2 linked regions of the Homo sapiens genome follow. The protein of the gene in region 1 interacts with the protein of each later gene in a pairwise test. Each region holds a gene or a part of one and is shown on either strand. Other genes may lie near its edges.

The links. Proteins that work in one complex are often made in the same cells at the same time.
Region 2: the proteins of KCTD7 (region 1) and NIF3L1 interact in binary tests that used the Homo sapiens proteins (3 or more experiments, as listed by UniProt).

The regions. Positions count from the first base shown.
Region 1 is NC_000007.14:66,627,162-66,631,106, reverse strand, and holds the start of KCTD7 (BTB/POZ domain-containing protein KCTD7), read right to left. Parts: upstream 2,227-3,945; 5' UTR 2,043-2,226; coding exon 1,899-2,042; intron 1-1,898. UniProt on the Homo sapiens protein: May be involved in the control of excitability of cortical neurons.
Region 2 is NC_000002.12:200,887,341-200,890,940, reverse strand, and holds the start of NIF3L1 (NIF3-like protein 1), read right to left. Parts: upstream 1,571-3,600; 5' UTR 1,289-1,570; exon of another isoform or gene 1-1,288. Other genes in the region: PPIL3 (peptidyl-prolyl cis-trans isomerase-like 3), read left to right, coding at 3,326-3,328. UniProt on the Homo sapiens protein: May function as a transcriptional corepressor through its interaction with COPS2, negatively regulating the expression of genes involved in neuronal differentiation.

The DNA.
Region 1 (3,945 bases):
AGTTACACTTCCGTGTGTGTATGCACTGTTACTCTTCTGCACCCACAGGACATGAAAATGCCTTGCGCTTATTCTGTAGGTCCTCTAAAACCATTTTATGTGTATATCAAGGGCTCAGATATCATTTTGGAATAATAATACTTAACATTTCTGGAGCTCTTTAAACCTTTTCTAAAGATACTTCATACCAATCCAAGTGCTTGCTCCATATTAGAGATGAGAGGATTGAAGCAGAGAGGACAAAAGCCATCGGAAACAGTTTTGGAGCTCACATGGGGCAATGTCATCAGTGGGGGGAACTGGTGGTGGGGCCCTGGTCTGCAATCTGTGGTCTTGTGCTCTTTCCCTCAAACCATATCATTTTCCCAATGACAGTGCACAAAAAAATAGCACCACTGTGACTAATGACTTTTTTCCAATTGCAGAGATTACTTCTAGATTTTTGCTCATTTTCCCATGGCATTGTGTGTATGGGGCTTGCAATCCCAGCACAACACTATCTGCTTCCCAAGAGCATCACCTAGCCCAGCCTGTTGAGGGCCTCAATTGTTGAGGGCCTCCATTGTCCTGGGACTCCGCATACCACATGCTCCTGGATCTGGCACTACCTTAGTCCCTGCCTCCTAGAAGCCATCTTCGGTGTCCAGTAATGCTTCACCTTCCCTCCTCTTTATTTTTTATTTGTAGAGATGGAGTCTGTGTTGCCCAAGCTGGTCCCAGACTCCTGGCCTCAAACCATCCTCCTGCCTTGACCTCCCAAAGTGCTGGGATTACAAGTGTAAGCCACCACACCTGGCATCGTTTCCCTTCTCTTGCTTTTTTTGTTTTTGTTTGTTTGTAGGTACGGTCTTACTCTATCACACCCAGGCTGGAGTACAGTGGCACAATTACAGCTCACTGCAGCCTCAACCTCCAGGGCTCAAGCAATCCTCCCAACTCACCTTCCTGAGCACCTGGGACTACAGGCACACACCACCAAGCCTGGCTAATTTTCATTTTTGTAGAGGCAGGGTCTCACTGTTGCCCTGACTAGTCTCTAACTGCTGGGATCAAGCAATCCTCCCACCTCAGCATCCCAAACTGCTGAGATTACAGATGTGAGCCACCATGCCTGGTATCTTCTCCCGTCTCTTGAGTGTCATTTCAGGTGTTGACATGATAGTATCACACACATTAAGTAAGACCCGTGGAAGCCCCTGTGCACCAGAGCACAGCAGCCTGTGAGTGAAAGCCATGGGATGCCAGGTGACCGTGCCTACATCTATGAACTGGCCTGCCCCTTATGTGCAGACAGCTCCTTGCCTTGTTCCTTAGGTAGCTGGAGACTAGGTGTGGGCAACCACTACAGCATCCTGTTGGATTCTCTAGAAGACATCTTTTTCTTTTCTTTTTTTTATTCATCCAACCCAAAATGCCTTTGTTTTTCCAGTCGTAGTAGGGACGGGGCCTCGCTATGTTGCCCAGGCTGGCCTCCAACTCCTGCCCTCAAGCGATCCTCCCTCCCAATGTGTTGGGATTACAGGCTCGAGCTACGGTGCCTGGTCAGACACACCATCAGCTCTCGGGGCTCCAGGGTCCCCCTCCCACGGCCCACCCTCCCTCCTGTCTTCGGTAAAAGTGGGACATGGCGATGGGAGTAAATCACCCCAGTGACTACTGGGCGGAGGGTGTAGGGGGTGGGGAAGCACACCTAGTGGGTGTAATTGACAGGGGTTGAAGGTGGGTGGGTAGGGGTGCAGGTGGGCGGGGGAGTTGCAGGTGGGCGGGGGAGGGGCGCAAGTCCGCGGGCCCCGCCCCCAACCCCGGCCCCGCCCACCCGCCGAGGACCGCTATGCCCCGCGCCCGCTTCTCCCCCGCGCCCCTCCCCACGCCCCGCGGCCCGCCGCCCGCCCGGGTACCTCCTGTGGCAGCAGGGGCAGCGCGTGCCCCGCCTGCGTGGCCGTCGGCGTGGCCGGCTCCAGAAAGTCGTCTTCGGCGTCAGAGCTGGACATGGCACCGTCCTGACGACGGCTGTCTGGCTCCCGCCCCGTGACTACCACCATCCCTCTGGCTCTGGGCAGTGGGCGCGGCTTCGGGCGGGCGGAGGCGGCGGCCCCGGGCACTCCCTACCGCCGAGCAGCGCCTGGCATGACGCGGCCGGCTGCGGGCTGGCCGGAGGGGGGCGAGAGGCAGTGCGCAGGCGGGAGGGCGGTGGCTCCCTCAACGCCGACCCGCTCGCGCCCAGCTGGGGCCTGACCCGACCGCCTCCCGCTACTGGCCGACGCCGCGCTGGTTCCGCCCTGATTGGCAGGAAGCTCGCCCAGTCGAAGAGCAGGCAGCGCCAGCGGCCGGCGCCTGAGTGGTCCCTGGGTTGGGGGGGGGGGGGGGGGGCGGCCTGCGAGCCTGCCGTGCACTGATTGGTCCTCTGGCCAGCGGGCGCGCCCTCTCCGAGAGACCCGGCGGTGGTGCGCCGCTACGCTCTCATAACTGGGCGTCGGAGTCTGCCGTGAAGAGGGTTCTCACCCGCGTCAGGGTAGACGCCTTATCCCTTCACACAGGGGGTCACGACTTACTCGTGTGTCTGGCCCCAGAGCAGCGGGTCCTTGTCTCCTCAATGGAAGGCCTGAGCAGCCTTTCCTGGAGGATGTGGCGGGAGGAGGGCTGAGGTGGCTGCGGACACGCCACCGCGGCTGGCCCCGCCCCGAGCCGCAGGGCACCGCCCGGGTGTCCAGTTCTTCCTCACTCGCTCGCGCAGAAATCCGAACGAGAAAACCCAAAATAGGAGCGCTTGAGTTCAATGAATAATGACAGTGACTCCCCACCGTGACCGTTTTTCCACCGGGACACACAGATGGAGACAGGCCCTTCCCCAAGATGCTCCCGGCTCCCTGGGAGGCGGAGTCCAGCCCTAGAGGCTCTATCAGCGCAGGGAGTCTCCTGGGGGTCAAGGTTCTTAGCCCGTTCAAGCCATTTTCTCCTTTCTTTAAAAGACAAAGTCTCACTCTGTTACCCAGGCTGAAGTGCAGTGGCGCAATCATAGCTCATTGCAACCCCTGGGCTCAAGCAATCCTCCCGCCCCAGCCTCCCGAGTAGCTGGGACCACAGACGCGCACCACCACACTCAGCTGATTTTTTAAAATTTTGGCCGGGCGCAGTGGCTCACGCCTGTAATCCTGGCTCTTTGGTAAGCGATGCGGGTGGATCACCTGAGGTCAGGAAGTTGAGACCAGCCTGGCCAACATGGTGAAACCTCATCTCTACTAAAAATACAAAATTAGCCAGGCATGGTGGCACACCTGCAATCCCAGCTACTAGGGAGGCTGAGGCAGGAGAATCGCTTGAACCCAGGAGATGGAGATTGCAGTGAGGCGAGATCACGGCCACTATACTCCAACCTGGGCAACAAGAGCGAAACTCCGTCTCAAAAAAGAAAAAAAAATTTTTTTTTTTTTTTTTTTTTAAGAAATGGGGTCTTGTCATGTTGCCCAGGCTGGTCTCAAACTCCTTGCCTCAAGCTGTCCTCCCTCGTCAGCCTCCCAAAGTGCTGGGATCGCAGGCGTGTGCAACCATGCTTCTCCTTTTCAAACCGTTTTCACACCCAGTTCCTCATCTCATTCTCACAGTGTAGTGACAGAAAAGAAAACTGAGTCGTAGATTAGACAGCTCCAGGATGGCAAAGATGAGCTGGTGGCATAGCACTTCCTCTGTTAGACCATCGCACTCCCAGCTGCAGGAGTGTCCTAGGTCTGTGTTTTCTCCAACTTCAGTTGCATCAAAATCCCTGGAGGGAGACCTTGTTTAAACACAGATGAAAAGGAATGAAATCACGTCATCTGCAGCAACGTGGATGGACGTCATTATGTTAAGTGAAATAAGCCAGGCACAGAAAGACATAAATATTGCATGTTCTTATCTGTGGCAGCTAAAACAAATCGATCTCATAAATTTAGAGAGTAGAAAGAAACC
Region 2 (3,600 bases), on another chromosome or scaffold:
TCAAGTGCTTTATCAGAATCAAAAATCAAGGAATACATAGGCAGGTCACTCTATAAATGGGCAGGGTCAAGGCAGAAGAAGGGAGAAGCCACTGCCCCTTAAGCAACATTTGCTACACAAAGGCCAGGCTCAAGAGGTGGGAGGGGATAAGGTATAGGGTACTTTTCCCAGACAGCCTGTAAGCCTTCTAAGTATCTACATCCAACAAGGAACTGAAAAGGTTGGCAACAGAGGGAAGGTGGGAGGGCAATGGAAAGGTAGAAAAAAACTGCTGGCTCCAAAATATGCACAATTAGTAAATGTTTAATCAAATAACCACAAAAGATAATGCTGTCAACCCCATTCTTAAACTTACCACTTATAAACACTTTTTGAAGAAAAACATTTCATAGTATGCACAATAAGAAAGCATAGCCAACTGTAAATTTGATGAAATATCCATAAGTCAATTATTCCAAAAGCAATTTTTCAACATTTCTATTTAATGAGATGAAGATGCTTGTTTAACACATTATTTGAAGTGATACAGGGTCTCCAAAAACCACTCGAGGTCTTGGAAGTTTGTTTTTGTTTTTTTCTTTTTGACACAGGGTTTCACTAGGCGCCTAGGCTGGAGTGCAGTGGCGTGATCTCAGCTCACTGCAGCCTCGACTTCCTGAGCTCAAGCAGATCCTCCCACCTCAGCCTCCTGAGCAGCTGGGACTACAGGCGCTAAACACCACACCTGGCTAATTTTTGTATTTTTAGTAGAGATGGGGATTCGCCATGTTGCCCAGGCTGGTCTCAAACTCCTGCGCTCAAGTGATCCACCTGCCTCGGCCTCCAAGAGTACCGGGATTACAGGGGTGAGCCACTGCGTCCGGCCTTGAAAGATCTTCTAATGGTCCTCATAGTACTCCATTCTCCAGCATTTTCTACATCTGGCAAGCTCGAAAGTGAAACCCTAGTGGGCCATCATGCAGGTTTTGAGTTATTTACTGTTACAGATGAGGAAACTGCGAAGCTACATGGCCACAGTCAACAACGACAACAGAAGGCAACATAGTATGGCGGTTAAGAGCACCGACTCTGAAGCCAGCCTGAATCCTAGAGCCAGAGCTGTGCAACAGCAGGTAAATGACTTATCCTGTGCAGTTTCCTCCTTAATGGAAATAGTGCCCAGGCCACAATATCGCGAGATTTACACGTAAAGCTGGAAACAACTCCCGTCCTAGAGTAAGCACTGTTTACTATTAAGCAGCATCAGTAGGGCCCCTTTGCAACCTGCAAACCGCTCCCTCGACGTTACCTCATCTATGCCTCATTTCAGTGCCACTTCAGGCCTTTTCCAGGACAGTGAAAAACCACGAGACACAGCCAGTTAAGTCTGAGTCAGGACCCCTGTCCCACTAGTGCGCTGTGCTCTGGTGCGGCAGGGCAGTTTTCTGACCCAATCTCCTCTTCTGCTGTCCTCTGCAGCACCAAGATAACAATCACAGCCGGCCCCAACCGGCACCTACCGCGAAGGTCACAACTACACTCGCGGGTTTTTAAATCGCCCACTACTCACCAGTCCCGGAAACTTCTCTGCGTCACTTCCGGTCCCGCGTCGGCGCTCCGGATGCTGTGGCACTTGGCTCCCCGTAGCGGGAGAGCTGGGCGGAAGTGGTCCTTTCCGTTTGGCAGCCGAGTGTAAAGCATTGCTTGAGGTTGCCCAGGTAGTTTCGCCTTACACTTCTTGTCCCAGTGCAATTATTAGTAGAGCTCCCTTTCACTGTCAAATTTCCGGTTGGGGATAAATTGCATTGTCGTTTTGGTTTGAGATAGGAAGATGAGGGGAGGAAGGAGGTGAGGCGGTAAGGGGCGTTCTCTCTCTTGGGTCCCGCGCCCAACTTCCGCTGGCCCAAAGAAACTATAATTTTGAACCAACAGACCTCTGCTGGCATCTGCGATTGCATTTTTCCTGTTTTAACAACGGCTGTGCTAGACGAAGTGGTGAAGCCCAAGTATGGAGTAACGTCATTAATTCTTTCATTCACTTATTCGAATGCTTGCTGAGTTCTGTGTTGCTACTGGTTTAGTTCTTGGGATACTGCGAGTGAACAGTGGGCGGCGAGGCTGTTGTTGCAACGTCAGAGTAAAAGAAGGACCCTGCACGGCGGCCTCCCAGCACTTCGGGAGGCCGAGGCGGGCGGATCACCTGAAGTCAGGAGTTCGAGACCAGCCTGGCCAACACGGCGAAACCCCGTCTCTACTAAAAATACAAAAATTAGTCGTGCATGGTAGCGCGCGCCTGTAGTCCCACCTACTCGGGAGGCTGAGACACGACAATCACTTGAACCCGGGAGGCGGAGGCGGAGGTTGCAGTGAGCCGAGATCCTGCCGCACTGCACTCCAGCCTGGCGACATAGCGAGACTCCGTCTCAAAATGAAAAAAAAAGAGAAGTTCATAGTATATTAGTGATAAGTGCTGTGGTGGAAAAAAAAAAGTTCATAGTATATTAGTATAAGTGCTGTGGTGAAAAAAAAAAAAAGCGAATTTCATAGTATATTAGTGATAAGTGCTGTGGGAGAAGGAAATAGGAATGTCCTAGGGCTGAAGGGCTAAAGCAGTTCTGTGTAGGATTGTCAGGTCAGTTAAACTTGACATTTAAGCAGAAATTTGGAGGTGAGGAAATTAGCCGTAGAGATGTCTGAGTATAAGAATTCCAGGCAAAAGGGACACCCAATGCCTGGACCCTAAGGGAAGGTATCTGGGTTATTGGGGGACTTGCAAGGAGGCTCTTGAAGAAGAGCAAGCCGGGCAAGTAGGAGATTGGGAGGCTTGAATCGGGTAGGATATCTTCTATAGCCGGGTTTTTATTACCTAGGGGATGCCATTAGAGGATTTTTTTTTTTTTTTTTTTTGACGGAGTCTCGCGCTGTCACCCAGGCTGGAGTGCAGTGGCGCGATCTCAGCTCACTGCAGCCTCCGCCTCCTGGGTTCAAGTGATTCTCCTGCCGCAGCCTGCTGAGTAGCTAGGACTACAGGCGCCTGCCACCACACCCGGCTAATTTTTGTGTTTTTAGTAGAGACGGGGTTTCGCCATGTTGGCCAGGCTGGTCTCGAACTCCTGACCTCAAGTGATCCACCCGCCTCGGCCTCCCAAAGTGTTAGGATTATAGGCGTGAGCCACCACGCCCGGCGAGGTTTTTATTTAAAATGTTCAGTAAAGATGAGCGTGTGTGAGTTAAGACAGGAAAATGAGCCTAATTCTTTTTTTCTTTTGGGACTAGAGACTTATTTTTGAGCTCGCTGTAAGACTGAGAAATCACGTAGTCCTTCCTGAAACCACTAAGAGGAAAAATGGTAAGTTTTGAGCAATTTTTATCTAATGTCTTTCATTATAAGTAATTTTTAGAAATTCAGTCAAGGGCAATAAAAGTTCATGGAAATTGCAGTGGCAAGATGGAGAAATTGTATAATATAGAAGCACTTAATATGGAATAATTCTTTTAAAAAATACACAAAATTGCTTTAAAATTCTTTAATGTTGTCACTTAAAATGCACAGAATTTACCTTTTTTTTTTTTTTTTTTTTTGAGTTTCACTCTTGTCTCCCAGGCTGGAGTGCAGTGGTG